Regions from separate parts of the Homo sapiens genome. Here region 2 is linked to region 1. The links come from fine-mapping of genetic effects on plasma protein levels. A gene starts in region 1. The other region holds a variant in brackets. All regions are shown on one strand. Distances are from middle to middle.

Region 1 (15,500 bases):
GGAAAGCAAAAAAAAATCAGGGGTTGCAATTCTATTCTCTGATAAAACAGACTTTAAACCAACAAAGATCAAAAGAGACAAAGAAGGGCATTACACAATGGTAAAGGGATCAATGCAACAAGAAGAGCTAATTATGCTAAATATATATGCACCTAATACAGGAGCACCCTGATTCATAAAGCAAGTTCTTAGAGACCTACAAAGAGACTTAGACTCCGACATAATAATAGTGGGAAACTTTAACCCCCACTGTCAATATTAGACAGATCAATGAGACGGAAAATTAACAAAGATATCCAAGACTTGAACTCAGCTCTGGACCAAGCAGACCTAATAGACATCTACAGAACTCTCCACCCCAAATCAACAGAATATACATTCTCCTCAGCACCACATCACACTTATTCTAAAACTGACCACATAATTGGAAGTAAAACACTAATTAGCAAATGCAAAAGAACGGAAATCCTAACAGTCTCTCAGACCACAGTGCCATCAAATTAGAATTCAGGATTAAGAAACTCACTCAAGACCGCATAACCTTACATGGAAACTGAACAACCTGCTCCTGAATGACTACTAGGTAAATAACAAAATCAAGGCAGAAATAAATAAGTTCTTTGAAACCAATGAGAACAAAGACATAACATACCAGAATCTCTGAGACACAGCTAAAGCAGTGCTTAGAAGGAAATTTATAGCACTAAATGCCCACAAGGGAAAGCAGGAAAGATCCAAAATTGACACCCTAACATCACAATTAAAAGAACTAGAAAAGCAAGAACAAACAAATTCAAAAGCTAGCAGAAGACAAGAAATAACTAAGATCAGAGAGAACTAAAGGAGATAGAGACATGAAAAACCCTTCAAAAAAAATCAATGAATTCACAAGCTGGGTTTTTGAAAAACATCAACAAAATAGTCTGACTGCTAGCCATACTAATAAAGAAAAGAGAGAAGAATCAAATAGACACAATAAAAAATGACAAAGGGGATATCACCACTGATCCCACAGAAATACAATCTACCATCAGAGAATACTATAAACACCTCTACGCAAATAAACTAGAAAACCTAGAAGAAATGGATAAATTCCTGGACACATACACCCTCCCAAGTCTAAACCAGGAAGAAGTCGAATCCCTGAATCGACCAATAACAAGTTCCAAAATTGAGGCAGTAATTAATAGCCTACCAACCAAAAAAAGTCTGGGACCAGACAGATTCACAGCCGAATTCCACCAGAGGTACAAAGAGGAGTTGCTGGTACCATTCCTTCTGAAACTATTCCAAACAATAGAAAAAGAGAGCCTCCTCCCTAATTCATTTTATGAGGCCAGCATCATCCTGATACTAAAACCTGGCAGAGACACAATAACAAAAAAATTTCAGGTTAATATCCCTGATGAACATCAGTGCGAAAATCCTTAATAAAATGCTGGCAAACCAAATCCAGCAGCACATCAAAAAGCTTATCCACCATGATCAAGTTGGCTTTGTCCCTGGGATGCAAGGCTGGTTCAACATACACAAATCAATAAACGTAATCCATCACATAAGCAAAATCAATGACAAAAACCACATGATTATCTCAATAGATGCAGAAAAGGCCTTTGATAAAATTCAACACCCTTCATGCTAAAACACTCAATAAACTAGGTATTGATGGAAGGTATCTCAAAGTAACAAGAGCTATTTATGACAAACCCACAGCCAATATCATACTGAATGGGCAAAAGCTGGAAGCATTCCCTTTGAAAACCGGCACAAGACAAGCATGCTCTCTCTCACCACCCCTATTCAACATAGCATTAGAAATTCTGGCCAGGGCAATCAGTCAAGAGAAAGAAATAAAGGGTATTCAATTAGGAAAAGAGGAAGTCAAATTGTCCCTGTTTGCAGATGAAATGATTGTATATTTAGAAAACCCCATTATCTCAGCCCAAAATCTCCTTAAGCTGATAAGAAACTGCAGTAAAGTCTCAGGATACAAATCAATGTACAAAAATCACAAGTATTCCTATACACCAATAATAGACAGAGAGCCAAATCATGAGTGAATTCCCATTCACAATTGCTACAAAGAGAATAAAATACCTAGGAATACAACTTACAAGGGAGGTGAAGGACCTCTTCAAGGAGAACTACAAACCACTGCTCAACGAAATAAGAGAGGATACAAACAAATGGAAAAACAATCCATGCTCATGGATAAGAAGAATCAATATCGTGAAAATGGCTATACTGCCCAAAGTAATTTATAGATTCAATGCTATCCCCATCAAGCTATCACTGACTTTCTTCACAGAATTAGAAAAAACGACTTTAAATTTCATATGGAACCAAATAAAAGCCCACATAGCCAAGACAATCCTAAGCAAAAAGAACAAAGCTGGAAGCATCACGCTAACTGACTTCAAGCTATACTACAAGGCTACAGTAACCAAAACAGCATGGTACTGGTACCAAAACAGATATATAGACCAACAGAACAGAACAGAGGCCTCAGAAATAACACTACACATCTACAGCCACCTGATCTTTGACAAACATGGCAAAAACAAGCAATGGGGAAAGGATTCCCTATTTAATAAATGGTGTTGGGAAAACTGGCTAGCCATATGCAGAAAACTGAAACTGGACCCCTTTCCTTACACCTTATGCAAAAATTAACTCAAGATGGATTAAAGACTTAAATGTAAGACCTAAAACCATAAAAACCCTAGAAGAAAACCTAGGCAATACCATTCAGGACATAGGCATGGGCAAAGACTTCATGACTAAAACACCAAAAGCAATGGCAACAAAAGCCAAAATTGACAAATGGGATCCAATTAAACTACAGAGCTTCTGCACAGCAAAAGAAACTATCATCAGAGTGAACAGGCAGCCTACAGAATGGGAGAAAATTTTTGCACTCTATCCATCTGACAAAGGGCTAATATACAGAATCTACAAGAACTCAAACAAATTTACGAGAAAAAAACCCCATTAGAACGTGGGCGAAGGATATGAACAGATGCTTCTCAAAAGAAGACATTTATGCAGCCAACAAACATGAAAAATGCTCATCATCACTGGTCATTAGAGAAATGCAAATCAAAACCACAATGAGATAACATCTCACACCAGTTAGAATGGAGATCCTTAAAAAGTCAGGAAACAACAGATGCTGGAGAGGATGTGGAGAAATAGGAATGCTTTTACACTGTTCGTGGGAGTGTAAATTAGTTCAACCATTGTGGAAGAGAGTGTGGCCATTCCTCAAGGATCTAGAACAAGAAATACCATTTGACCCAGCAATCCCATTACTGGGTATATACCCAAAGGATTATAAATCATTCTACAATAAAGACACATGCACACATAGGTTTATTGCAGCACTGTTCACAATAGCAAAGACTTGGAACCAACGCAAATGCCCAAGACACATGCACACATAGGTTTATTGCAGCACTGTTCACAATAGCAAAGACTTGGAACCAACCCAAATGCCCATCAGTGATGGACTGGATAAAGGAAATGTGGCACGTCTACACCATGGAATACTATGCAGCCATAACAAATGATGAGTTCATGTCCTTTGCAGAGACATGGATGAAGCTGGAAACCATCATTCTCAGCAAACTAACACAAGAACAGAAAACCAAATACCGCATGTTCTCACTCATAAGTAGGAGTTGAACAATGAGAACACATGGACACAGGGAGGGGAACATCACACACCAGGGCCTGTCGGGGGGTTGGGAATTAGGGGAGGCATAGCATTAGGAGAAACACCTAATGTAGATGACGGGTTGATGGGTGAAGCAAACCACCATGGCACATGTATACCTATGTAACAAACCTGCACGTTCTGCACGTGTACCCCAGAACTTAAAGCATAAATACAAAAAAAAATGTTGTTAAGTTGCCAACAGTCTTGACTTCCTAATACAAAGAAATTCATTCTCTTGAAAGGAGTAGGAACCTGTAATATTGGGCTGCCCTGGAAATAAATAGGGAACCATTTATGATCAAAACAAGCCACTGTGTATGGAGTATCTTCTCACTAATAGACACTTTAGATGCATTATTTCATTTAGTCCTCATGCCAATCCTATAGAGTTTGGAATTATTCCCATCTTAGAGCAGAGGCTCAGAGAGGTAAACAACATGCTCAGGATCACATAACTAGAAAATGGCAGAACTAGGATTCAAACCTCCAGGCTGCCTCCCTGGCTCAGGAGGCCATCTGACCTTGTCCCTCTTCCTGCCTCAGTCTGTCCATCTGAGATAAGGGAACAAATTCTTCATCCATCAAACAGCAAAGACTCCCTCCTTTGCTCCTCCACCTCTCTCATCTGGCTGCTGCCTGCTTTCTCTCCAAATCTTCCTCTCTCCTTCTGGTCCTCCTCTCCCTGGCCCAGAGGAGGGGACTCATGACCTTGAAGCTGCCCTTGGTGGGCTGCCAGTCCCCCTCCACTTACCACCTCCCTGCTGATCGGTGTCTTGGGTCACCGTATTACAAACCTTCCCAGCCTGTGCTGGCATCTTCAAGGAAATAACAGAGAGGAAAAGTCACAGGGGCTGTATTCTGGATAAAGAACATCATTACAGTACCTTGGTTCTCTCCAGGTCCTATCCCTGCCTCTAATCCTCAGCATTTTCCTCTGGAGAACGGAAAGCTGAGATTCCATGCTGTTTAAGCCACCCCCTGTTCTGATAGCCTGGTGGAGACTGCAGCTCCAGCAAGCACCTTTGAGAGAGTCCCCAGCTCGCGCTCACTCAATCCTTAGAGTGGAAGAGATTGACTGAAAGACGACGAAGGGCGATACAGTGTCCAGGGAGGATTCCTCACTTTCTTCGAATCACTCAGCCAGTTGGCCTGAAAGGCAAAAGCTGAACCCTCACTATGACTCCAGCAGCCATGGGATGGCGGTGTGACCTTGGGCAAGAACATTTTTTTCTCACCGATGCTCCCTTACACATCTTTAAGATGAGCGGGGCATTTTCCTAAATCTGTAAAGTTCCTTTCCGCCTGGACAGAGGAATTGGGGAAAATCTTGCCAGGCCAGGCTCTCCCAGTCTTTCCCCAGGGCTGGGGGAGGCCCCCAGGGAGGGACTCCAAGAGGAGAGGTGAGCGCCCCAGGCTCCGGGCTTTCCCGCAGGGCAGGCTTCGGCCGGTTCGAGAAGGAAACTGCGGCCCCGGGTCCCCAGGCCGCGGGGAACAATGTCCCGGCTGTGCGTGCCCGGAAGCCCGTCATGCACCAGAGACTCGAATCCCAGCTAGGGGTGGGGACCCCCCCTTGGCTGCGTTTCAACGACGCCTTTGTCTACCCCTGGGCCGTGCGAGGGAGAGGACTGACGGATCTGGTTTCAACCGCCTTGACTTTCCCGGGGGTCCCCGGGTCCGGGGGCGCCCCTGTTCCCGGAACCCGGGCCCTCCCACCTCCTCCCAGCCCAGCGCGGCCCCGCCCCGTTCCCGCTCGGCCGCCGTGGGGTTACCATTGGGCAGAGAGCAGAAGGTGGCACAGCCCGCGCTGCAGCACTTGAGGTTGTCGGCGCATTCGCTGTCCGAGACGCACTCTTGCGTGCAGTTCTGGTCAGCCTGGAGCTCGGGGCACACGCCAGTCTTCTCTGCTCCTGTGCCTGGGAGGGGAGGCCCGGGACAGTCGAGGGTGGGGCGTAGCGCCAGCCCCAGAGGATGCCCACCTCCTGCTCCAAACCTTAACCCCAAGGAATTCTCAGTCTCTGGCCCTAGGAGTCCCCTTACAGCCCCCAGAGACTCCTTCTTCCAGACCAGGAGTCCCTGACCCCTGGGAGTACGAGAGCTCCCTAACCCTTGGCGTCGGGGCCCTCAGATCTCAGCCCTAGGGGACGCCGCACAGCTGAGCGTCTCGGAGCTTCCGAGGTCGAGGCAGAGCAGCCCCCACCCCCAGCCCACTGCAGCCACGGAGTGTCCGCGTTCAGCACAGAATCCTCCCAAATTGCAGCCATCAGTGGTCTCTCCACCTCCAGCACATTGGACCCCACACCCTAGGCTCCAAGGGTCCCCGCCACTTCCGCCCCCGGAATTCCCACTTCCCCAGCCTCCAGAGGCTACGCCTCCGCCTGGCTCCATCCTGGCGCTCGTGGCTCGGCCCCTCTAGGCGCCGGGCCTCTCCCCGCCCCACTCACCTGAGACTAGGGTGAAGCCGAACAGCAGCAGGCTGAGGAGGAGGGCGGCGGCTAGCGGGCCTAGGCGACAAGCAGGCATGGTGCTATGCCCGGGCGGGGTGCAGGTGTGAGCCGATGCTCAGGTGCGGGGATTTAACCGCGCGCGCGGGAGGGGGCGTGGGGTAGGGGTGGAGCCGAGCGGGGAAGGGGAGGGTGGAGGGCTTTGCGGGCACCGCGGGCGGGCTGCCACATGAGGTCATTTCACAATCCCCCAGGATCAGGTATCACTCTTGGCCCCGGTGGGAACCAGGAACTTAAGCAGCTTCCAGGACGGGACCAGCTACGGCCGGACCCTTGTCCACGCCTCCCTCCTGACCTCCCTCCTGGGGCCTGAGGGCCAAGGCTCAGGGCTCCTGGGTTTCTATTCCAAGACTCCGAGGTTTCTCCAGAGTGTCCCCAGTGGGCGGTTGAGGAGGATAAGGCAGGGCCCGCAGGGAGGCAGTAGAGCATGCGGGTTAAAGGGTTCGATTTGGGGTCAGCCAGATGAGAGGGCAGATCCCTCTTGATGGAGGGCTAGGGTAGTGATACAGAGCACATAGTAGGGGCTACAGAAATAGCACTTATTATTAATAAACAAACCCTCCTCATCAGAAACAGGCCCAGGAAGGTGAAGCACCTAGCAGTCTCAAGCCGTTTGGGTGTGTGTTTCTGTCTCCCTCTCTTTGTCCTACCGGCCCCTGATCAGGGCTGACTGTGCCAGGCTCTGTGCTCCTTGTCTCAAGGAATTGTCGCCGGTCCTCTGACCGGGGAGTTACTGTTATCAGCTGTATATGACAAAGGAACTGAGTGTTTAGGGATTTAGGACCGCACCTCCACCACAAGGTCCCCTGCAAAGCTGTACAAATAAGGTTTTGAACCCAGGTCTCTCCCTCCAGGCCCTTGTTTTTTCCATTCCGTCGTAAATATTCACTGGGTGCCTACTGTGTGACATATGCAGGGCAAGACGCTTGGTGAAGAGAAAGTCGTCAAAAGGGGCCCTCCAGCACTGGTCTTGAAGGGGTGACAGGGTCTGGGGTCTGACTCCCACCTCCACCACTTCCCACCTGAGGGCCCTGGAATGAATCCTTTCCTGGATCTGAGCTGCCACATCATCAGTGAAAATGACACCTATATGGGACTTCAGTGAGAACACAAATGCAACGTTCCTGCCACGGAACAACCATGTACTCACTGGGAGCATTGAGAGTAGATCCACACTGATTGACACAGGGACTCCAGGCCTGACCCATGATAGGTACTGGATACATGGCCATGAGTGCTCCACAGATAAGTGTCTCCTGTGACGAAGGAGACCAATAAGTATAAATGAAGCTTTAGAATCCAGGGGGTTAAGTGCCAAAACAGAGTTACCCAGGGAGTTAGACAAGAAGTGCTTCCTGCTCCAATGATCTGAGGTTCTAGAAGCCCCAGGAGGTCTTTGCTGCTGGAGGCTAGAGGGGCCCTGGGGCAGTGAACACTGGGATGATAGTGACAGGTGAGTAGGGTTTGGTGATGTGAGTACATCTGGCCACTGTCCCCAAAATGGATGCTGAGAACACCTCCCCCAGCTTCTCATGCTCAACTTGGGGACTGGGGACGTTATTGGGAGGGGCCAGGGCTATTTACTCTGAGCTCAGTCAACAATGAGGGCAGGAGCCAGGTGGGAACACAGCCCATAACAGGCTAGTGAAACCCAGTCTAGGGCACAAAGAGAACACTGGGGTGAGCAGCCAGTTTTTAGCCCGTGGACCCAGCTGGCTACTGTACATTCAGCCCCAGGCACTGCTGCCAACAGCTTTCTTCCGGGCCCTATTCAGCTCCCTGGGCCAGGAAACTGCCCAGCCTTGCTCCTCCCAGGCCCTTATGAGCACCCTATTGATTGGCTCTCTCTTACAGGAATACAGACTGAGGGAGAGTGGCAGGGCCAGGCAGAAGGATGGGGAAGGAATTTTCATCAGTCAATGGCATCAGATGTTTAGCTTTTGTGGTGCCAAGTTCCGTGCTAGGTATAGTTATAGATATTCTCTTTACATCATTTAAAAGGGCAGAGGCTTTAGAACCAAATGCATCCATGCCCAATCAGGGACAATGCATCCATGGCCACTTTCTGGCTATGTGACTTAGAGAAACACTTCATGTTTTGGGCCTGCATCTTCTTCCTGCATAAACTGTGTATCATCCTAACAGTCTTGGATGATTATTATAAGGGTTTTATAAGATTATTATAAGGGTTAAAGGAAAAAGCATAAATCAGAGGTTGCAAATCTGGCTAGAGCACATACATTATTAACTACACAGTATGTTTTAAATTTTTAAATTAGTTGCCAAGATTTAAAAGTAGCGAATTTCATATAAAAATAAACCTCTAGCTTCTCTTGGAAAAAGTAAAAGATCTGGCAACACAGTCCTGCAATCTTAGATATAACAACCATCAGCTAGAGCAGCAGGTCTCAAAATTGAGCATGCGTCAGAATCATTTTTTTTGTTGTTTTTGTTTTTTTGAGACTGAGTTTTGCTCTGTCCCCCAGGCTTCCCTCCCCTCCCCTCCCCTCCCATCTCCTCCCCTTCCCTTCCCTTCCCCTGCCTCCTGGGTTCAAGCGATTCTCCTGCCTCAGTCTCCCAAGTAGCTGCGATTACAGGCGCCACTACACCCGGCTAATTTTTGTATTTTTAGTAGGGACGGGGTTTCACCATGTTGGCCAGGTTGGTCTCGAACTCCTGACCTCAGGTGATCTGCCCGCCTTGGCCTCTCAAAGTGCTGGGATTACAGGTGTGAGCCACAGTGCCCAGCCTAAGCATGCATCAGAATCACTTGGAAGGCTTATTAAAATACAGATTGCAGGATCCCCATCCCCAGAGTTTTGATTAGTAGGTCTGGAACCTGAGAATTTGCATTTCTAACAGGTTTCCAGGTGATGCCAATGCTGCAGGGCTAGGGACCATACTTTGAAAACCAGAACCTAAGTACAGCTACTCTTTTTCTATGAGGGAAGCATTCCCTCCAGTTTCCCATAATCCCCACCACCACCATCCTCCCTCTCTGCAACTAGTTCCATTCACAGTGCTCACCTGACCCCAGGAGGACATTTAAATTTGTGACCTCTGGAGTGGGCACATAGTAAGTGTTTGGTGAAAGATAGCTTATATGTATTTAGCAATCTTATGGATTAAGTATTATTACTCCCATTTTACACGTTAAGAAACTGAGATTCAGCTAAGCAAAGTGACTTGCTGGAGGAAACACAGCCAGTAAATCAGAGGGAAGACTCTTGCCAAATTACTTGTGTTGTCCCAGTTATTTCAATATTATACACATTCACACAGATCTATCTGAGGTTAACGTAGATGATGCATCCAAAGTTTTGGACTTGACTTCATGAGTGTAAAAAAATATATATCAGGGAAGAGGAGGAAGAAAAGAAGCAGAAAGGAAAGAAGGAAAAGTTTATAGTGGTAGATGATGTCAATTAGCTGTAGACATGCCCACTCTAAAATGACTGTAAACAAGTTAACGGTGAAGATTTAAGAAGTTTCCAGGAACAAAAAAGGTGCCTTTAACCATGCAATGGGCCTCTCCTTTTAGACTTTTGGACTCAGTCAAACTTCCTTTCATTCCATGGAAACCTCTCTCTTTGGATATATTGACTATTTTGTTTTGTCACCTAGCATTCATTTGTCCTTTTTCTGATAAATCACCCTGAGTTTGCTTTGGAGGAAATAACTTCCTCCAGACCAAGACAGGTGGGGCCAGGGAGACTGTCAATTAATGTGTCTGCCCTACCCCCAGGCAGAGTGGCCAATCAAATACTGTTCCTAGAACTGTAATCTTGAGCAATGAATGATAAAAGACCTGAAAATTTATGGAGCTAACTCAGAGGTGTCCTGGGAAGAACTCAGTTCTGACTTTACCATTCTTTCCAAGCTGTGTTCTTTTAGCCTTTCCTTCAGTTCTGAGAGCTAAACTGAATCAATTAGTGCTATTGGGTGCAAGCAGTAAAATTCAACTCTGGCTAACTTAGAGATATTATTAGGAAAGGAGAATGGATGCCGACTACATCCCATTTTTATAAATTTCTTCTCTGTTTACAACAGCCAGAGTTGGTTTCTGTTGCTAGTAACCAAAGAGATCTTACTCCCTATACCAGTGTAACCACCAAGTTCCTCATTTCCAAATCCAGTGGACTTCTCTCAGCTCTCATTCTCTTCTAACTCACAGTTAAGATCCTTGTGGCATACATGCAATAATGTTCAAACCAAATCCTCATTAAAAAAAAAAAATACACATGGTCTCTGCACAAAAACCCATGAAAAGCAGAGCTTGTCTATTTGAAGTGGCTCAGGTCCAGCCCTAAACCAAATAATCTTCCTAGAACAGTGCACTTGTCGAGTTAATTCCTTGACTGTAAATTCTACTGGATCTTCACTGCCTTCAGGATAAAGGCTGAACTCCTTAGCCTGCCTTTTTGACTGATACCAACTTTTATTTCCAGCTACATTACTTACTTCATGCTGCACAAACCTTCCCTGGGCTCATTGTCTCATCAAACATTCCTTGATCAAGCTCACCCCAAGAGTCTTCTTTATCAACAGCTGAGACTTGAATGATGTGTAACATCTATCTACAACATCATCTGGGGCTGAGCATTACCAAAAAAGGTTAAAGCAAGTCCAAAGATCCTAAGGCAGGAAGAAGCCTGATGAATGCCAAGAAGAGTAAGAGAACCAGTATAGCTGGAGCAGAGTTAAAATCAAGGGAGATGAAATCAAAGAGCTAGGCAAGAACAAGATCATGAAGGACCCTGAAGGCTATGAAAAGCAACATATCTTTTATGTGCAATGGGAAGCCATGGGCTAGTAAAAGCTGGGAGATTGGGGGACAAAATCATCTGATTTATAATTTTTGAAAATCCCTCTGGCAGCTCTGAAGAATGCATTGTAAGAGGACAGCTATGGAAACTGGACTAGTAGTAAGAGGATTTTTGCAGTTGTCTTAGCAAAGCATTGATAGTAGTGGTTCCTTTTATTAGGCAAAAGATCATGAATTACTGGGTACTGGTCAGTCCATCACATCGGGAGACAGGTCTGATTTATTAGACTTTCCACCCTAAGATAAAGTCACAGGGAGAAGCTGTGAGGTTGTAGCAGTAAAAAAGGAGGCTTAGCAAAAACTAGCTCTATTTTGCCCCAAACTCCTACCCCACTCCTGTGGTGACATATTTTAGGTTAACTGCTTTTGCTCATTTCTACACATAGGCTGAGCTAACTATGGGAGAAATTTAGTTTATAGTTTAAAGCAAGGTTGCTAATAGTCCCTTCCCCAAATTAACCCCAGAGGAGATAAGGAGGGTGTATACACAAGTAACAATATTGTGTTAAAGATGATTTATAGGAGCATTGTGACCTGACCAAGGACAAAGAAGTTTCACCACACCCCCTTGGACCCTCACTGCCACCCAGATGTCTGTGATCCTTGATCACCTCTTGATCTCAAACCCCTTTCTCTTCCCCTTCCCAACATAAAAAGAGCCTACAATTCTATTAACTTAGGATGTTTCTTTAGGACATTAGTTCACCATCTTCTCAGTTTGTTGGCTTTCTGAAATAAAGTTGCCTTCAGTACCCCAATACCTTGTCTCTCAACTTATTGAATGTCATGCAGTGAGTAGTATGAGCTTGGACTCATTTCCATGGTTACTAATTCGTCTACTAGCAGGATGACAACCCAATTTTTCTGGTCCTTCCTAGGATGGAAAGGATGGGTACCCACAACTGCCATGAAAGCCATATTCATCCCAAAGGGAAGCATGAGACCCATGAGATTTTCCTACCCTGAGGCCAAGAGTGTTGTAGCAGTTTTTAAACATGTCAACAGTTGTTTTATACCCCTCTATATTCGTCACTTCTCACACTGCTATAAATACCTGAGACTGCATAATTTATGGAGACATAGGTTTAATTGACTCATGGTTCTTCATGGCTGGGGAGGAAACTTATAATCATAGCAGAAACTTACAATCATGGAAACTTACAATCACGACAGAAGGGGAATCAGACACCTTCTTCACAAGGCAGCAGGAAAGAGAAGAGTGAACGAAGGAAGAACTTCCAAATACTTATAAAAACATCAGATCTCGTGAGAACTCACTCGCTATCATGAGAACAGCATGGGGGAAACCACCCCCATGATTAAATCACTTCCCAACATGTTCCTCCCTTAACACCTGGGGATTACAATTCAAGATGAGATTTGGATAGAGACACAAAGCTAAACCATATCACCTTCCTATAGAGAAGTGGGGTTTGTATCTCATTCCTTGAATCTGAGTTGGTCTGTGATTGCTTCAACCAAGAGAGTCTAGTAGATGTAATGCTATATGGTTTCCAAGGCTAGATCATAAATGATGGTGCAATTTCTACCCTTTTAACTGGAACACTAGCTCTTGGAGCCCTGAGCTGCCATGGAAGAAGCCTGACTATCCTGAGACTGCCTTGTTGTAAGGAAGCCCAAGGCACATAGAGAGGCCACATGTAGGCGCTACAGTTAGCAATCCCAGCTGAGCCCAGGCTTTCAGTCATGCCAGCCCAGGTGCTAGCCATGTGAATGAAGAAGGCACCAGCTGATTCCAGCTCCCAGTCATCGCGTCACCCCCAGCTGTTTGAGTCTTCCCGGCTGAGGCCTGAGGCATCATGGAACAGAAATGAACCATTCTCATGTTTGTGTCCTGTTTAAAATTCTGACCCATAGAATCCATGAGTCTAATGAAATGATTCTATTTTACACCAGCTTTAGGATGGTTTGCTGTCATGCAGCAATAGGTAACTGGAGCAGGCGAAGATTGTTGGTGAGGTTCTTTATAACCCTGTTGGACCCGTGGGGGGACTATACAGAATTAGAACAGGCTGTAAATTACTGAGGTTAACCCACAGAAATCAATCTGTAACAGAATTGAAGAAGAAACAAGCAAGTAGTTTCATTATTTGTCAAATTGCCCCTACTACCCATCCCATAAGAACTGGTAAGAGCCTGAGATTTGGAGTCAAGAAGAGATCATTTGAGTCCCAATTCTATCACTTCCTAGTTCTGAGACCCTGGGCAGTTATTTCACCTCTCTGAGCCTCAGTTTTTAAATTTACAATATGAAGATATTTCTTGCCTCATTAGCTCAACATAGATTAAGAGAGAATATTTTGCAAAGCAATCCTAGGATTTCTGTAACAAAATACCACCAACTGGGTGGCTTAAACAACAGAAATTTATTCTCTCACAGTTTGGGGGGTCAGAAGTCCAAGATTAGAGTGTCAGCAGGGTGGGTGCATTCTGAGGGTTGTGATGAAGAATCTGTTCCATGCCCCTCCCTTAGCTTCTGGAAGTTTTTCTGGCAATCCTTGCTGTTCCTTAGCTTGTAGGAGCATCACCCCGGTTTCTGCCTTCATCTTCCCACAATTTTCTACCTATATGTGTGTCTCTTTAAATTTTCTCTTTTTCTAAGACACTTGGACACACACATTTAAGGCAGCACAATTAGCAATTGCGAAAGTATGGAACCAGCCTAAATGCCCATTGACCAATGAGTGGATAAAGAAAATATGTGGCATATATACACAATGGAATACGACTCAGCCAGAAAAAGGAACAAAATAATGGCATTTGCAGCAACCCGGATGGAGTTAGAGACTATTATTCTAAGTGAAGTAATTTAGGGATGGAAAACCAAATATCGTATGTTCTTACTTATAAGTGGGAGCTAAGCTAAGATAATACAAAAGCATAAGAATGATATAATGGACTCAGGGACTTGGGGGGAAGGGGCAAGGGGATGAGGGACAAAAGACTACACATTGGGTACAGTGTACACTGCTCGGGTGATGGGTGCGCCAAAAAATCTCAGAAATTACCACCAAAGAACTTATCCATGTAACAAAAAAACCCCTGCTCCCCAAAAACGATTTAAATTAAAAAATTTTTAAAATACATAAAATAAAATAGTCTCTCTGAGTGTGTCAGTTATATTTGATTAGGGATCACCCTATAACCTCATTTCAACTTGATTGCTTATGTAGACTCTATCTCCAAATAAGGCCACATTCCAAGGTACTGGATTTCAACATATGAATTTGAGGGGACACAATTCCACCCGTAAGAGAGAGTAAAAATATTGCTCTGTGTTCTGAGCTGAAAATGATTCCACAGGTTCTTTCACAGCTTTATTTCTTGTAAAGGGTTACAGCCAGGGCTGGCCCAGCTCCCTTTTCCTCTCCTAGCAGCAGCTTTGATCCTTTCTGATGAATGAAGGGAGAAAGGTGCCCTTAGGCCAGTCCTGCTAACAATGTTCTCTGCAAGTACATAGGTCTTGCCTCCAGTTCTCTGCCTCCTACCAAATGGCTTACCCAACAGAGTTACTCATAACGCTACCAGCAATTAGTTACATCTCTGTTTTTTCCATTGGCCTGTGGTCTCCCCCAAGAACAGGGACCAAGGTTGATTCATAGTAGTGAATAGCAGAGTCCATCTCCTGCCATGATTCTCAACTTCCACACTCTCAAATCAGACTCCCTCAAACACTGATGTTTGCCAAACCTGGTCCTTAGTACAAGCCTGCAGGTGTCTAACCAGCATTTGTGAGTACCCACTGCATACCCATACACTGCCAAACAGAGGCCAACATAGTGAAACCTCATCTTTACTAAAAATATAAAAATTAGCCAGGTGTGGTGGTGGGCACCTGTAATCCCAGCTACTCAGGAGGCCGAGACAGGAGAATCTCTTGAACCTGGGAGTCAGAAGTTGCAGTGAGCTGAGATCGTGCCTCTCCACTCCAGACTGCATGACAGAGCAAGACTCCAACTTGGGGGAAAAAAAGGCACATCATCTTTGGCACATTTTTTATATATAAAATTATAGGCACTTGACCTTGGTGCCCACTCAGGGCTCTTCCAAGTGTATTTTCCTTTCTTTACTGTTCTAAAGCCTTTAAAAATAAATTTCCACACTTGCTCTGAAAAAAAAAAGATTATATATTAGCTAGAATTTTTATTCTTAGTAACCTTAAATTTTAGCAAAAAACTGGGATGCAAGCAATGCTGAACTGAGTCTGAGTACAGAATCAAGTTATCCTGGAGAAAATCATTGATTTTCTAGACCTTTGAAATAAAATGTTTTAGCATCAGGCTGCAACAGTGGCTAGAACTGGAGGGAAAAAATAATTACAGGAGCTGACATTAAAGTTGAAGGAAAGAGTTATCAACTAGGGCTTTGTACTCAGATAGCAGCATTATAAATGAGAACGACTCCACAATTCTTAGAAATGTTTCCCCATATCATA
Region 2 (15,500 bases), 20 kb before region 1:
AAGCAGCCAAACCCTTTTGCCAGTTACAGTAGCGGGCAGCCTCTCCCCTTCCCTGCCCAAGAAGAGTGTATTTTGGACTCCAAGATCCCTGCACTGGTCTGTGATTGAATCCAATAATTAGCTCCTCTGACTCTTCTGGACACCATGTTCTGCTGGGGTGGTCCCTGAAAGGACTTAAGCTCATTTGCAAATAATGGGTGTTAGGACACCTCAAAATCCGGAAGAGATCTTGTCTTACTCTTGACCTCTCCTCACTTAAACCAAGCCCTAGGTTGGACACTACATAAATGGAATTGGACCGGGTTTGAGGCTTAGAGAAATGAACGTTTAAATCATATAGCAGTTGCATTTACTGCAATATGATCAGATGATGCATTTTCAGAAAAGCATTACAGAGGACATAAGATTGGGGGGATTTTCAATGAGTGTTGCTTCTGTAACCTTCCAGTTTCCTCACAAGGAATATTTTGGGTTGGTGCAAGCCTACTAGATAGAGGAAATCCCACATGGGGTTTACCAAGTTTCTTACATTTGCAACATATCACCCTGATATGTTGTAAAAATGTGAAGCAATCTTCACCATCTTGATCTAATATCCAGGTTATAAACACAGTTTCTTACTACACAATTAGTACCATCTTCCTGCAGAAGCTATGTGAAACTGAGACAGCACACTTGCACAGTCCCATTGTGACAATGTAATAATGGCCAGTACCCAGTATGACAACATATAGAATTAGCTATTTACTGGGCTTCAAAGCCAAAGAGGAACTGAGCCCAGGAGATGGGCCAAGACCTCCCTCAATGTCCCGCAGGCACTTCACAAAAGCTACAAGAGAAGCTCTTGTAATCACTTAGAGAGGATGACACCCCCATAGATGTCAGTCAGCCTGTCTCCCTGGCCACCCTAGTGCTTGCTCAGGGGGCTCATGAACAAAGCACCATGTGACAGTGGTAGGGACTAAGCCTGGGGCCAATGACATGGACTTCCCACTTAGCAAGGCTGATTGGCCTATTGACACTTATGGTATACAGCAGTGTACTCCAGCAGTGAGCCTGCTAGCGTGATGGCCAATCTAAGCCCTGATATGGTGCCGTTAACCAGAGAAAATGAACCAGCTATCTGGTGACAGGTACATGAGACCCCTTCAAAAGCATGGAGGCAGGGGTGATTGGCCCTCACTGGAATAGATATTCTGAATTTGAATTTTATTTCCTTGCCTTCCATGCCTGTGCCAGTACTGGTACCCATGGATTTGTGGAATTTCTTAATCACAGTGACTGTATCCCATATAATATTGCTTCTAGAAAAGAACTCCTCATTCATTCATTCAATTAACATATATTTATTGAGTGCCTACTATATGCCAAACACAAAACGGACAAAACAATAATCTTTTCCTTTCCCCTTCTTGATCACAAACACTCTGAGTGGGGCAAAGATAATAAATATTATATTCAGGGTGGGGCCCAGAAAATAAACAATAAGCATAATATATAATTTAATTATATAGACTAATAGTAGTACAAGGTGCTATGGGGAAAAAGTGAGTAGAATAAGGGGAACTGGGGATGCAGAGGTTGCAGTTTTAATGAGGATGGTCATAGTGGGCCTTTTTGAGAAGGTTACACTTAAGCAAAGTCTTGAATGAGGTGAGTGAAGATTAACCATACAGACATCTAGGGAGAGTGCTACAGTAAAATAAAGAAAGAAAGGGCCTGTTATTCATGGGATTCACCAGTTTTATCCTGTTCTCCATCACCCAGAAGCAGCCAGACTTGTGGAATGGTGGGATGTCCTGCAGGTGTGACATTAACAACTTGGAAATAAAACTTCGAGTGGGTAAGGTTCTATCTCGCAGGATACTGTACATGCTCTCAATCAGCAACCAGCATATGGTGCTTTTTTTCCCACAGCCAGAATAAATGGATCAGAGCAACCAAAGCATATCTTGTTATTAAACATAATAACTGTGGTAGATTGAGTTACTGGCTCCAATTCATCACCCTCCCTATATCCACAATCAAAGAGTCTGCAGTTTCTTCCACTAGAGGCAGAGTATATTTCTCTGCCCCTTAACTTCGGGGTTGGTATGTGACTTATTTTGGCTAATGATGCTAACAGACATGATGAAAGCACAGACTTGGAATCTGTGCTTATCCTTCTACCAATCCTACGAGAATGTGTTTTTGTTTTGTTTTGAGACCAAGTTTTGCTTTTTTTTTTTTTTTTTTTTTTTTTTGAGACAGAGTCTTGCTCTGTCACCCAGGCTAGAGTGCAGTGGCGTGATCTCGGCTCACTGCAACCTCTACCTCCTGGGTTCAAGTAATTCTCCTGCCTCAGCCTCCCGAGTAGCTGGGATTACAGGTGCCCACCACCGCGCCCGGCTAATTTTTGTGTTTTTAGTACAGATGGGGTTTCACCATCTTGGCCAGGCTGGTCTCGAACTTCTGACCTCGTGACCCACCTGCCTCGGCCTCCCAAAGTGCTGAGATTATAGGCGTGAGCTACTGCGCCCAGCCTGAGACCGAGTTTCACTCTTGTCACCCAGGCTGGAGTGCAATGGCTTGATCTCCACTCACTGCAATTTCCGCCTCCTGGGTTCAAGTGATTCTCCTCCCTCAGCCTCCTGAGTAACTGGGATTACAGGCGTCCGCCACCATTCTTGGCTAATTTTTTTCATATTTTTAGTAAAGACAGGGTTTCACCATGTTGGCCAGGCTGGTCTGGAACTCCTGACCTCAGGTGACCCAGGGAATACATTTTATGGAACCTGCTGGTTCAAGAAGAACCAGCTGAGCCCAGCCTAGATCAGCTGAACCCCAGCAGACCCACAGATATGGGAGTGAGAGCGAATGATTGTTGCCTTAAGTCACTGAATTTTGAGTTGGCTTGTAATTCAGCATTACTATGATTATGTTAAATGTTGTGTCTCAGGGCTCTGCGGTGTTTTAGAAACCAAGGAAGGAATACTTCCAATAAGGGAAACAATAAAGGTTTGTTTAAGGAAGCCAAGATTTCTACCTGACAGTGTGGGGGGCCTCATACCACTGGATGAAGAGTTTTTTGTTGTTTGTTTTTTGAGACGGAGTCTCGCTCTGTCCCCCAGGCTGGAGTGCAGTGGCGCCATCTTGGCTCACTGCAACCTCTGCCTCCCGGGTTCAAGCAATTCTCCTGCCTCAGCCTCCCAGGTAGCTGGGATTACAGGCACGCACCACCACACCCAGCTAATTTTTTTGTATTTTAGTAGAGACGGGGTTTCACCATGTTGGCCAGGCTGGTCTCGAGCTCCTGACCTCGTGATCTGCCAGCCTTGGCCTCCCAAAGTGCTGGGATTACAGGTGTGAGCCCCCATGCCCAGCCTGAAGCATTTTTTTAAGCCAGCTTTTGCCTGCCCTGTTGCAGTGACCTACCTGCCCTCCCTGGTTCTGCATCTCCCCTGTAGTATTCACAACACAGCAGCCAGAAGGATCCTTTTCCAACTGAAGTCATATGTCACTCTTCTGCTCAAACTCCTCCAGTGGCTCCCAAATTTGCTCCAAATAAAAGGCAAAATCCTTGCAATGAGCCACAAGGCCCTTATTCTCTGTGCCCATGCTACCTCTCTGACTTCAACTCACCTCAGGCTCCTGACCACTCATTCACCCCAGCCATGCCAGCCTCCTGGATGATCCCCAACACCCTGAGAACACTCTGACCTCAGGTCCTTTGTTCTGGAACTCTCTTCTCTCTAAATTCCTCTTCTCATGGGTTGTCACGCAGCTCATGTCCTCCTTCACTGAGTTCACTACTTGAATAATACTTTAAGACCTTCCCTGACTACTTTGCAAAGTAATCACCCCCATCTCTACCCCACCCCCAGACTCACTATTCCTCTTACCTGTGTATTTCTCCATAACTTTTCCTCCACCTAACATGTTATATATGTGTTAGTTCATTTATTTATTGGCTATCCTCTCCACCGCACACACACACACACACACACACACACACACACTCTTTTCCTTCTATCAAATCCCCACCACCTAGAATAGAACACATAGTAAGTGCTTTATAAATATTGAATGAGTGAATGCCTCTGCTGATGTTGTTTCTGGGGCAGGACCTTCCCCTCCCTGACTGGTCTGTCTTTAGAACTTTATTTTCTAAGCTCCAGCTCACTCATGTAACTTCTTACTATCGCTCCAACCCCAAACCTGCACTTTCCTGCAGAGAAGATGTCTGTTTCCATGTAGGTATTACCATACATGGCTTCCTGGGCTGGGGATGGCCTTTAGAGGCATCTGCAAAGCAGTTTGCCATCGGAAATGGGAGAAAATAAGTGCGGGAAGAAGCCCTGCCCTGACGTCTGGAGGGGCAGCTGGGCTGAGTGGTTCTGTGAGGGGCCTTGAGGTTGGCTGTCCCATCTCGATCCACCTGTTTACTGGGATTCCTGGGCCCTGGGAGCTGTTCTCCTGGCCAAAACTAAGCTTTGCTGTGGTCTGCCTATATCAAGTGTGGCCCATCAAGGCCTGGAAGAGGGGGAAGAGACCAGTCTGGGACCCTGTCCTTTTTCCTTCCCCCTTTCCAATCACAAATCTTCAGAGTCCCCAACCTACAGCATTCACTTGGCTGCAAAAGTTGATCAAAGAATGATCGTAGGGCTTCCGCCTTGCCTGGCCCCCCTTGCACGCTGCAGGTCTGTGTCAAGCCATGGACACAGCTCTCTGTTCCGGAGGATGGAGTGTGTTAAAATTGTTAAGAGTAAGGCCTACTTTAAGAGATACAGATGACATTTAGAAGACCAGTGGGTTAAACTGATTACTATGCTCAGACACACTTGGTAATCCAGGATGAAAATAAGTAGAACACACCAAAATTCAGGATAGTTCATGCAACTAACAGAGAGATCATTTGTCATATGGTTTTTGCCCACACAGAAGGGAATATGATTGTCTGCACAGCATATGTTCATGAATGTCTAAAGTGTAGCATGAAGGTTGGCCAGCCAGATTATGATGCAGCACATTGTACTGGCCTGTGCTGACCCGAAGGCCCCTCAATAGTCTTGGCATGGACAACACCTATGAAGGTCAAGTGGAGGTGAGCAGAGATGGGTATCACATGGGAAGCATTGATGGTTACTTGGTGCCTTCACTTGCTACTTGCCAGAACTACCAACGGAAATAAAGGTAGGGGGGCCCTGAAGGGAGGTGTGGATTGAGGTTTTCTATCCCTCACAGTTACCAAACAATTCCCTGGTTCCAATTCAGAAAGCAGGGAGTTCAATGCAGAAGCACATCCTGGGTCAGAAGATCGCAGATTATATGCATTACCCAATGTAAGAAGATGAAGATGTTTACAAGAAACAATTTTCTCAATACATAAAGAACAACATAACTCCAGTCATGACGGAGAGACATGTAAGAAAGCTCATGATGCTGAACAAGAGAATCCAGTTCACGAGAGGAAGCCTGGGGAAGAAGTTAAGAAAAGGTGGAACCATCCCAAGACGTCCCCTGTCCAGAAGAAAGACTGAGTAGCTCAGAAGGCAAGTTTTCTAAGAGCTCAGGAGCAGGCTGCTGAGCGCTAAGCCAAACAACTATTTTCTTGTCTTTTCTTTTTCCTTTTTCTTTTTTTTTTTCAGAGACAGAGTCTCGCTCTGTCACCCAAGTCAGAGTGCAGTGGCACAATCATAGCTCACTGTAGCCTCCAACTCCTGGGCTCAAGCAATCCTCCCCCACTTGGCCTTCCAAGTACTTAGGAATATAGGCACGTTCCACCACGTCTGGCAAATAGTCATTTTCTATAAGATTATTCAGATAAAAACAATAAACTTATTGACCAAGCAGCTTAAAAAAGAAAATTAAAGGAAGGGTCTCAGCCAGAGGTTCTGCCTCGTCTAACCCACCCCTGCTTTCTTACCTGCCCCATCCCACCTCTCAGTCCTCCTTCCCTGGTAGCTTCTTCCTGTGCATTACTGAGATCCCTGGCAACTTCCACCTCATCTTCTGCAGGAGGCCTCTGGGCTAGGGACCCCTTGAAAAAGCTTTACCCCCTCTTAAGCTTCTGGTGGAGGGCCTGAGGTCCCATCTCCTTTGGACCCCTGCTCAGGGTCCCCTGTGCAGTCTTCTTACTCAGTAAAACCTCAACTGCCAGGTCTGACTTTTCACCATTAGCATTTTATTTCTTGAGTTAAATCAGGGGTAGCAAATCTATCTATCAACCCCAATCAATGGGCAGCTGTAGCAGCTGCCTGGAGCCCTGTGCTGAGGGCTCTGTGGCCACACATGGGCTAATGGAAAGGAGCAGCAATCATGTGATATGGGTGCTGGTGGAAGAAATGATGGCATGTGGACACCTTTGCCATCCCTGGGTTAGACATCACCCTGCCTGGGCCACTCTTTCAGAATGCAAACCTGTAGAAGGACAGGAGAAAGTGGAGCTAGTGGTAGTCACACACCGAGTTCCCAGCAACTCTTCCCAACCCATCACTGGATGCCTCTGTTTCTGCCTAAAAGGTTGGGGAGCCCCGAGCATGGACAAAAATAGAAATCAGAAAGTGGGGAGCTGGGAAAATCTACACTGCCATCTCTGGCCAAGGGGCTATCATATGCACAAAGCATCCCCACTCCCACCAGGAGGCTCTATCAGTTTGTGCCCCTGGGAGTGAATGGAGATGCCCTGGGGCCTTGTCTGGTCCCTGGTCCCTGGTCCCACAAGAAGATGAGGAAGATAAAGCCTGATAGACACCAAGCCAGGCTGGCCAGATATTCCAGACAATGTCACTGAAACTTTCCAGATCTCTCATGTTCCACGGTGGGTAGAGAAGGGAAGGACATGAAGGCTGTTCCTGGGGGGCCAGAGTCACTGACATTACTCCCTTATTCTCCTTCTCCCTCACCCCAAAGGATAAGCATACACCCCAGGATTAAAGTAAGAAATCATTGTGTCAGAGGCCTTCCAACCAGAGTGACTCCATCTTGAATAGGGGCTGGATAAAATAAGGGTGAGACCTGCTTGGCTACATTCCCAGAGGGTTAGGCATTCTTAGTCACAGGATGAGATAGGAGGTTGGCACAAGATACAGGTCACAGACCCTGCTAATAAATCAGGATGTGGTAAAGAACCCAGCCGAAACCCACTGAAACCAAGATGGCAATGAAAGTGACCTCTGGTCATCCTCAATGCTTATTCTATGCTAATCATAATGCATTAGCATGCTAAAAGACACTCCTATCAGTGCCATGACAATTTACAAACACCATGGCAACACTCAGAAGTTATCCTATATAGACTAAAAAGGGGAGGGATCCTCAGTTCTGGGAAATCTCTTCCCCTCTCCATGAAAACTCATGAATAATCCACCCGTTTTAGCATATAATCAAGAAATAACCATAAAAATCTTGAACCAGCAACCCTTGGGGCTGCTCTGCCCATGGAGTAGCCACTCTTTTTCCCTTTCCTTTACTTTCTTAATAAACTTGCTTTCTCACTTTACTCTACGGACTTGCTTTGATTTCTTTCTTGTGTGAGATCTGAGAACCCTCTCTTGGGGTCTGGATCCGGACTCCTTTCTGGTAACATCTTCCTGGCCACCATGAAGCGACTATACTGAAGAGACTTCTGACCCAAAGAAAAAGACTGCAGCACCAATTGGCCAACTCTGGATATGTGGTGGGGTACGTTTTACCTGGGTAAAGGATGGGATTGGGTTAGAAGCCCAACTTAGGAGAGTTAGAGTCCCTCCTAAGACAAAGAGGCTTAAAGGCCCCTGTTAATAAAAAGCAACGACGCTTGACCAAACCTGGGTTAAAGGCTTAACTTAGAAAAATTAGAGTCCCTTCTAAGCCATAGGGGGTGGCTGGGCGCGGTGGCTCATGCCTGTAATCCCAGCACTTTGGGAGGCCGAGGCGGGTGGATCACCTGAGGTCAGGAGTTCGAGACCAGCCTGGCCAACATGGTAACCCCACCTCTACTAAAAATACAAAATTAGCCGGGTGTGGTGGTATGTGCCTGTAATCCCAGCTACTCGGGAGGCTGAGGCAGGAGAATTGCTTGAACCTGGGAGGCAGAGGTTGTAGTGAGCCGAGATCGCACCACTGCACTCCAGCCTGGGCGACAGAGTGAAACTCCATCACAAACAAACAAACAAACAAACAAACAAAAATCCTGGCCGGCGCGGTGGCTCACGCCTATAATCCCAGCACATTGGGAGGCCAAGGCGGTGCGTCAGGAGATCAAGACCATCCTGGCTAACACCGTGAAACCCCGTCTCTACTAAAAATACAAAAAATTAGCCGGGCGTGGTGGTGGGCACCTGTAGTCCCAGTTACTCTGGAGGCTGAGGCAGGAGAATGACGTGAACCCGGGAGGCGGAGGTTGCAGTGAGCCGAGACTGCGCCACTGCACTCCAGCCTGGGCGACAGAGCGAGACTCTGTCTCAAAAAAAAAAAAAAGTATTTACCTTACATACAGGTAATGCGTGTATAAACACATACGCAAATAACACCTCTGAGGCCCGCAGGTCACTGCCACCTCTAACGGCCCCATTGGACTGTGAATTCCAGTGGGCCCAGCCATTCTCCCTCAGCCATGACTGGATCCGCAGGTCCCAACACAAGCCTCTCATCCAGCAGGCGCTCAACAAACACTCAAGTAACCCATCAGGCCCAGTTTTTGGAGAAGCCTGGGACTCACCTTGAGGGAAAGGATGTCCTCTGCGCGGATGACGAACTCGTCCTGCTCACGGAAAATGCCCTCTCCGCCACTCTCGTCAGCCTTCTAGTCCGTCTCTCCACACACGGCCGCCGTCTCCTGCTTCTTGGCCAGGTGCAGAGGCCAGGTGTCCGGCAGCTCAGCGTCCTCGGGGGATGGGGGGCGGGCTCCCCTGGAGGGGCAGCCGGTGGGGCAGCGGCTGGCGGGGGTGGCAGTGGAGGCGAAGGCATAGCTGGTGGAGGTGGCAGCGGTGGTGGCGGTGGTGAGCTGGACGTGGGGGCCACCAGCGGGGGTGGTGAGGGCAGGGCTGGCTGTGGCGGCGGAGCGGGTGGGAGAGGCTGAGGAGTCGGGGCTGGAGGTGGAGTGGGTGGAGATTTCTTCTCCAGCAGAGGGGGCTCTTTCTGTATTTTGTAAATTTTTCTTTCTGTATTTTTCTGTCATAAAAAGGGGTACCTTAGGATGAAGCACAACTCCAGCCTGGGCAACACAGCAAAAAACTCCATCTCAAAAAGAAGAAAGAGAGAAAGAGAAAAAAAGAAAGAAAAGAGAAAGACAGTGGTTAGAAAGAAAAGAGAAAGACAGTGGGTCAGAGGTCCCCCTCAGTAACATCCCTCTTGGTTAGAAATGGATTTGGCACTATGAAATGTTAACTGCTATTCTCTGGATTAATCTGCCTTGCACTGTTTGCTGATGGCTACAGGTGACTGGATTAGGCATGTACAGGATCTTGGAACATGGGGAACTTTTTTCTCCCCAGAGGGGGCAACTTGAGAGCTGATGGGACTGCTGGAAAAGATCCCTTTGTGACTGACAAGTACCTGCCTGAACTTTTGATTCAGTGTTGCTGCAATGGGTGGGTATTCCTCTGGTCTCCCTGAGCTCCCCGCTTCCCCACCCTGCCTCAGACCAGGCTTCTCTCTCTTACTCTCTCTTTCTCTCCTTTTCTTTTCCTATCGTTTCTGTTACTTGAGACTACCTGCTCTTCCATCTTGCCCAGAGACCACATGTTGAAATTCCGGGTCGGAGGTCACTCCACCCCACTTTGAATGGATTAAAGATGACAAGGCCCAACCGGGGGCAAGTTTGAGCCTTGCCAGTTAGATATTGGGTGCTAAGCAGAGCGGCTAATGTCTATGTTTTGTCACACGTATTTTGCTCTGGCTGGAATGGAAAATGTTCATTTGGTTACCCCATGCAACCCACTGGGCAGCATCTTACAAAATTGAGATTTTTTTTTTTTTAATTTTGTGTTGCAGCTTGGCCTCCAGGGCTATGATGCAGCAAGTAGATTCGCTAGGGCCACTCAGGGAAAGGGAACCCAGAAACCTGGCATGCCAGCAAAAGGGTAAGAATTTCTTACCAGTCAGACTTCTGGCCTCTCTCTGTGCGCGCCGACTGTAGGAATGGTAAAAATCACTGCCTCCTCTGCAAAGTTTCAATTAATGAAACAAAAGCCTTCATGTGGCTAGTATTAAGCTGTAGCAAATCTGGTGTAATTTGTGCTATGAATTTGTCTTTCTGTATTTTTCTGTCATAAAGAGAGGTACCTTAGGATAGAATATGGGCTTAGGACCCGGTAAGCTTGCTGTTCAAGCCAGTCCGGCACACTGGTCAGTTACAAACTTTGCGGCAGGTCCCTGAAACAAACAAAAAACTGACTGAAGTTTTCCCCTTGTCTTATGCCCTTGGAAGCTTG[ACCT/T]TGTAACCATATGGTGGTATACCTTCTTAGTCTCCAGCATCCAGAGGACAGGAATTTTGAGGTTCACGTCATAGCCCTAAAAATTGTCTTGAGCAGTTAAAAGCCTTTGCAAGCTCAAAATTGGCTGCCTCTAGGGTCCTTCTAAGAAAAGAAATGGAAACTGCCCAATGCTGAAGCTTAGTAGCTAAGGTTTTGTCTTTTCACAATGGCAGCCCACATTCAGGGTTCAATTCCCAGCTCAGGGAATTAGTCCTTTCTAGTTTGATATCTACGTGAGCTTTGCCATTTGTTGATTCTCTGCCCCTCCTTGAACAACATCTGGCTTTCCTTTTTGAATTTTCCCTTCTCTAAGCTGCCTTTGTAGATTCTAAATCTTGTAAAAACTGCTTACCACCTGTTTGAAAATACTTCGTACACCTGTGGTTAAGTCACAACCTTAGTTAAGGCTTATTGGTTTCACCTGGGAGATTACCTTTGGTAAAGTTTAAAGGCCATAAATATTGGCTGTTTGTCCCGGCTAGAGTCTGGTAATAAGAGATTTTGTTAAAAGTTAGCTTAATTAAAAGCAGATATCCAAGCTATACGTATATTTAAAAGGTCTTTATGTTTTTTTCTCTTCTTGGATCTTATGAAGAAAAAAGTATTTTTTTTTACCAGGGGAAAACAAGACAAGGGGAAAAAAAAGGTATTTTTTTTTTCACAGTCAACTGAATTGTTTCTCTGTTTTGCCTTCTTGCCACTCTTGATGCACATGTGAGAGGACCTAAGATAATTTCTAATAGCCTTGGACTCCTTGAGAAAAACAGAGGAGGTGCCACAGACCCCGTTTTAGGGAAAACATCTGTTTTCCTCATTAAGACCCAGGGATTGGAAGCAGATAGATCTCTCTCAAAAGCTAAGGCTCTGTTCTGTTTTGCATTGCGTTATTTGACATTTTTTACTTTTTAGAGTATCAGAAATTACTTCACATTATGAGTGAGCTTTGGTGTGTAATAACTAGGTAGCAAATATACTTTTGGGCATGGCCAGTGGCAGTTATGGCGGGATACTTGGCTCTCTGCACGTTTGGATCAGAGAGGCGTGCTCTCAGCCACCTGGAAGGTATGGAAACATCCCCATCCCCCACCCCACCACTGAGATAAGGCTTCCGTGGGGGATAGGCTGATCACAGAATGGGCTGATTGACTCTGGGTTGTCTTGCAATGAAACTCACAGTAAGATCATTCATTGTCTTGTTCTGTAGTATTTCTTTTTTGGGAATTGAGGATCCGGTATAAAAATAGGACCCTGAATTTTGGGGGATCTGTTTTGCTTTCCATCTGTATCTGCTTATTAAGCCCTAGAAACGGCATGTTTTCCTAACCCTGTTCCTCAAAGGACCCCACCCTGAAGCCAGTAATCCAATTAAGAAACTTAAAAACTGCCAAATGAAAAATCGTAACAACTACTGGATCTTCTGCTGTCTGTATATTTATATGTGTTGTGTGTGTGACATTTATATATGAAGGAGCTCTGATTAATTGGCTTAAAAATAAGCGCTTAAATATTTTGTCAGGAAAATAAAAACTAATGCCTTTTAGTTCACGTGACTTTAGTAAGCTTTGGAAGGACAGTTTAAAAAATTATTGGTAAAATAAAGACATTTGGTCTAAATTAGGTCAGATAATTAGGTTTGCTAAACGCTTTAAGATCATGAACTGCTTCTTTGACTTTTGAAAAGTCAAAGAAGAGCTATTCTTTGAGCTATTAGATTCTAGGTAAGGCCTGTGGACATGCGGAGTTAGGGATGCCCCCTCACTATGATGGAAGGATAACTTATCTGCATTTTTGTCTCGTATCTTAGGCTCCACACCTGCTACAAAATTAAAAATCACTCACTTATCAGGTTTTTCAGCAACAACAAAAGTTTCTAAGAGTTAACAGTGTAACATGCAATGGAGACTACTACAGAAACGTTTTACATGCAAGGTGTGTCAGGAAAGTGAAATGTGTTTTTGGTAAAAGATTATAAGAAGGCATGGAAATGTGGGAGTTTTTTGGCTACACTAGTTTAGAGGGTTAAAGGTTTTAACTAAGATAGCATAAAGCTGAAGGTTTGAGCAAGTTGTGATAGGTTTGTGAAAGATTAATCTGGTAAAAGAAATTTTATATGTGAACATATTGGCTAAAGCTAAAGTGACATTATTCAGTTTTTCTGTAAATTGAACATTGGAATAAAAGCACAAAAGGATTTCCTTGGAGCACTGATCTGCTCTTTAACAAAAATTGTAAAGGGTCATAAGATTTATAAGAATCTTACCTTAGGGTCAAACATTAAAATTGAAGAGATTTGTCTAAGGTTCTACTAAGAATTGGGTTTGATATTAATAGTACACTAATGCAAAGGTGAAATTTGGCTTTCTCTTGAACAAGATTTTCCATGAATAAAGTTTTTTGCCTTTTTAAAATTTTTGAGTTATTTTGGCTAGATGACTTATGGTGGCCTATGATTCTCTTCTATAATATCAAGTGTTTTAAACCTTTGATAGTAACAAACTTTCCAAAACCAAATTATAAATTATGTCTTTTTCTGACCTAATTAATCTTATAGCTATTAGGTCCCCTAAAGTCCAAAAATGACATATTTGGCTTATTTGGTATAAAAATCATACAGGAAGCATTGTCAAATATGAAATGGTGTTTGGCTTTCTTTGGGCTGTATTTGTATAAATATGTTATTAGTATATGTTCCAAAATTACTGGAAAGTCCTGTAATTCTGATATGGCTTAGTGTATGTAATTAATAATTATAATTGTTGTGTAAAATTGTATGCCACAGAAGTAACCAAAATTGTCAAATGTGGCTTTAGTAGTGGCTGTCCTAAGACTTTTTGTCACCCACAATTATTGTCTTGTTTTGATTCTCTTCAAAAGGTGGTTTATAATCAGCTATAGGACTTTGACAGGTGCTCTTGAATGCAGGTTTCTGATACCTTTGGAGATTGTGACATTAGAATCGAGGAAAAAACTTTCAGGACTCTCATGGAGAGCTGAAATGTTTATGAATATCAAGCAGAACAGGTGTTAACTGCATAGACTGAACTAATAGAAGACTAAAATAACCCTTCTATGACTTTTTACTTAAAACATTGCTGATCTTTGTTTTTCAGAGCCAAGAAAACTTTTATTTGTAACTTTAAAAAATAAAAATAAGATGCAGTCTCTCTCTGTTGCCCAGGCTGGAGTGCAGTCGTGTGACCTGAGCTCATTCCACCTCCACCTTCCGGGTTCAAGCAGTTCTCCTGCCTCAGCCTCCCAAGTAGCTGGGATTACAGGTGCATGCCACCATGCCTGGCTAATTTTTGTATTTTTAGTAGAAATGGGGTTTGGCCATGTTGGCCAGGCTGGTCTCAAACTCCTGATCTCAGGTGAGCCACCCGCCTCGGCCTCCCAAAGTGCTGGGATTACAGGCGTGAGCCACTGCACCCGGCCCAGTGATCATTTTAGAGAGACAGTTTAACCACTACCTGACCATCACCTGATCGTCACCTGACATTCCTGGGCGTGTGAGGGGGGAGCCCTCTCCTGTCCTGCTCATGTCTAACTACCTACTCTAACAGATGGAAAGAGATGATAGAGATAGGGAGTGGGGAGAGAAGTAGAAGGGGACACTATGGAGAGAGAGGAAAGTACATAGAGAGAGGGGCATTAAGAGAGGGAGTATGGAGAGGGGGAGGATGGAGAGGAAGGAATAGAGGAGAGAGAAAGAGAATAGAGTGAGGCATAGAGGGGGAATAGAAAGGAAAAGAGGAAGAAATAGAGAAGGGAGAGAGAAAGGATTGAGAGCTGGGGATACATATCTGAAAAGAAACCCAAGAAACTGAGAACATTTTTTGTCTTTATAGAAAACAACTTGGTGGCTGGGGTGGAAGGTGGAGACAGGGGATAAAGGGTGAAAGACACTTTTCATTGTATATCTTTTTTTAATCTTTTGAGTTTGGATGCATATGACTATATTACTTATATAAAATAAAACTTTGACTTAAAGTATCAACAAGAGAGGATCCTGGATTGCCATCTTTCTGTGTGGCCACTGGCAAGTAACCTCATGGAGTCCAGGTCTATGACAGGGGTATGTTGTTAACTGCTCTGGGGATTGTTTTGAGGACCCAGAGGATCTCATAAGCAAACCTCCCAGCACCGTGTCTGGCACCTGGTGCATGCTGCTGCTTATCAGCACCCCCAGCAATGAATCTGAGTGACTTTGGAAGCACCCCACCACCTGTCTGAGCCTCGTTTTTCTCATCCATCCTCCTGGAGGAATAATGACCAGATTCATAGGGTTGATGCAGGGATCCACCAGGAGAATGCTAACACCTACCAGATGATCCTTCTCTGGACTTCATGCCTGGATGATCTGGTCACACCCTTAACACTTGCCCACCCACCTCAACCCAAGTCAGGGGAGACAGAGACAGAACGTGCTGAAAGTGGTTACTTTATTGGTTGGGAAAGGGAGAAGCTGTGGTCAGCCCAAGAGGGAATACAGAGTCCCGAAAAAGGGGAGGGCAGGTGGGCTGGAACCAGATGCAGGGCCAGGCAGAAACTTTCTCTCCTCACTGCTCAGCCTGGTGGTGGCTGGAGCTGGAGGAAGAAAATTATAACAATACCATCAACAACAATATCCATTAGACTAGGCAGGAGTACCTGCAGCTTAAATCCTAGACCAGCTCCTTGACCCCACCCCATCCCACACACCCACACAGCAAAGCCTCACCTTCTGGGGGCTCTGCTTGCATTTTCTACAGGTTCTAGACATACTCTTCTCCTTCAGACCATCCCTAGCAGGTACCTGGGTATACTGTGGTCAGACCATCCCTAGCAGGCACCTGGGTATACTGTGGTCCCAGATGTCCACTGTGGCCTTCCTGAGGGGTCATGGCCATTTCTCTCCCCAAGAATCCTTCTACTATTAGGAAGTTCTGCCATGCCTTCTTCTTTAGGTTAAAATGGGATTATCTGATCAATTAGATCTTATTTAGCTACATTTTATAAGCGAGATAACTGTGACTCAGGGAGGTGAGAAGGTTAGGTAAGTGTCAGAGCTAACATTTGAACCAAGGT

Direction of the effects. Positions count from the first base shown, and alleles are read on the strand shown. Strength reflects both the effect of a copy and how common the allele is.
As copies of ACCT replace T in region 2, the plasma level of the protein whose gene starts at base 6,267 in region 1 goes up (moderate association).

The links. A credible set is the group of variants that fine-mapping cannot tell apart. PIP is the chance, under the fine-mapping model, that this variant and not a neighbour inherited with it causes the effect. The UK Biobank Pharma Proteomics Project read protein levels with antibody pairs (Olink). The fine-mapping took linkage between variants from a reference panel, not from the people measured, so its PIPs are less certain.
Region 2: its variant is the best candidate, but not a certain one, in a credible set for the plasma level of the WFDC2 protein (UK Biobank, PIP 0.72).

What each region holds. Positions count from the first base shown.
Region 1 is chr20:45,460,520-45,476,019 of GRCh38, reverse strand. WFDC2 (WAP four-disulfide core domain 2) reads right to left here and starts at 6,267. Exons shown (of 4, transcript NM_006103.4): 1 at 6,160-6,267; 2 at 5,488-5,631. The coding sequence starts at 6,238. RefSeq lists silencers at 5,343-5,392, 5,413-5,602.
Region 2 is chr20:45,480,891-45,496,390 of GRCh38, reverse strand. LOC107987282 (a long non-coding RNA gene) reads right to left here and starts at 8,779. Exons shown (of 4, transcript XR_001754641.3): 1 at 8,681-8,779. It overlaps WFDC2 (WAP four-disulfide core domain 2), which reads right to left. Exons shown (of 4, transcript NM_006103.4): 4 at 14,859-15,020. It also overlaps the pseudogene RPL5P2. The variant ACCT/T (reference allele first, on the strand shown) is at 10,395.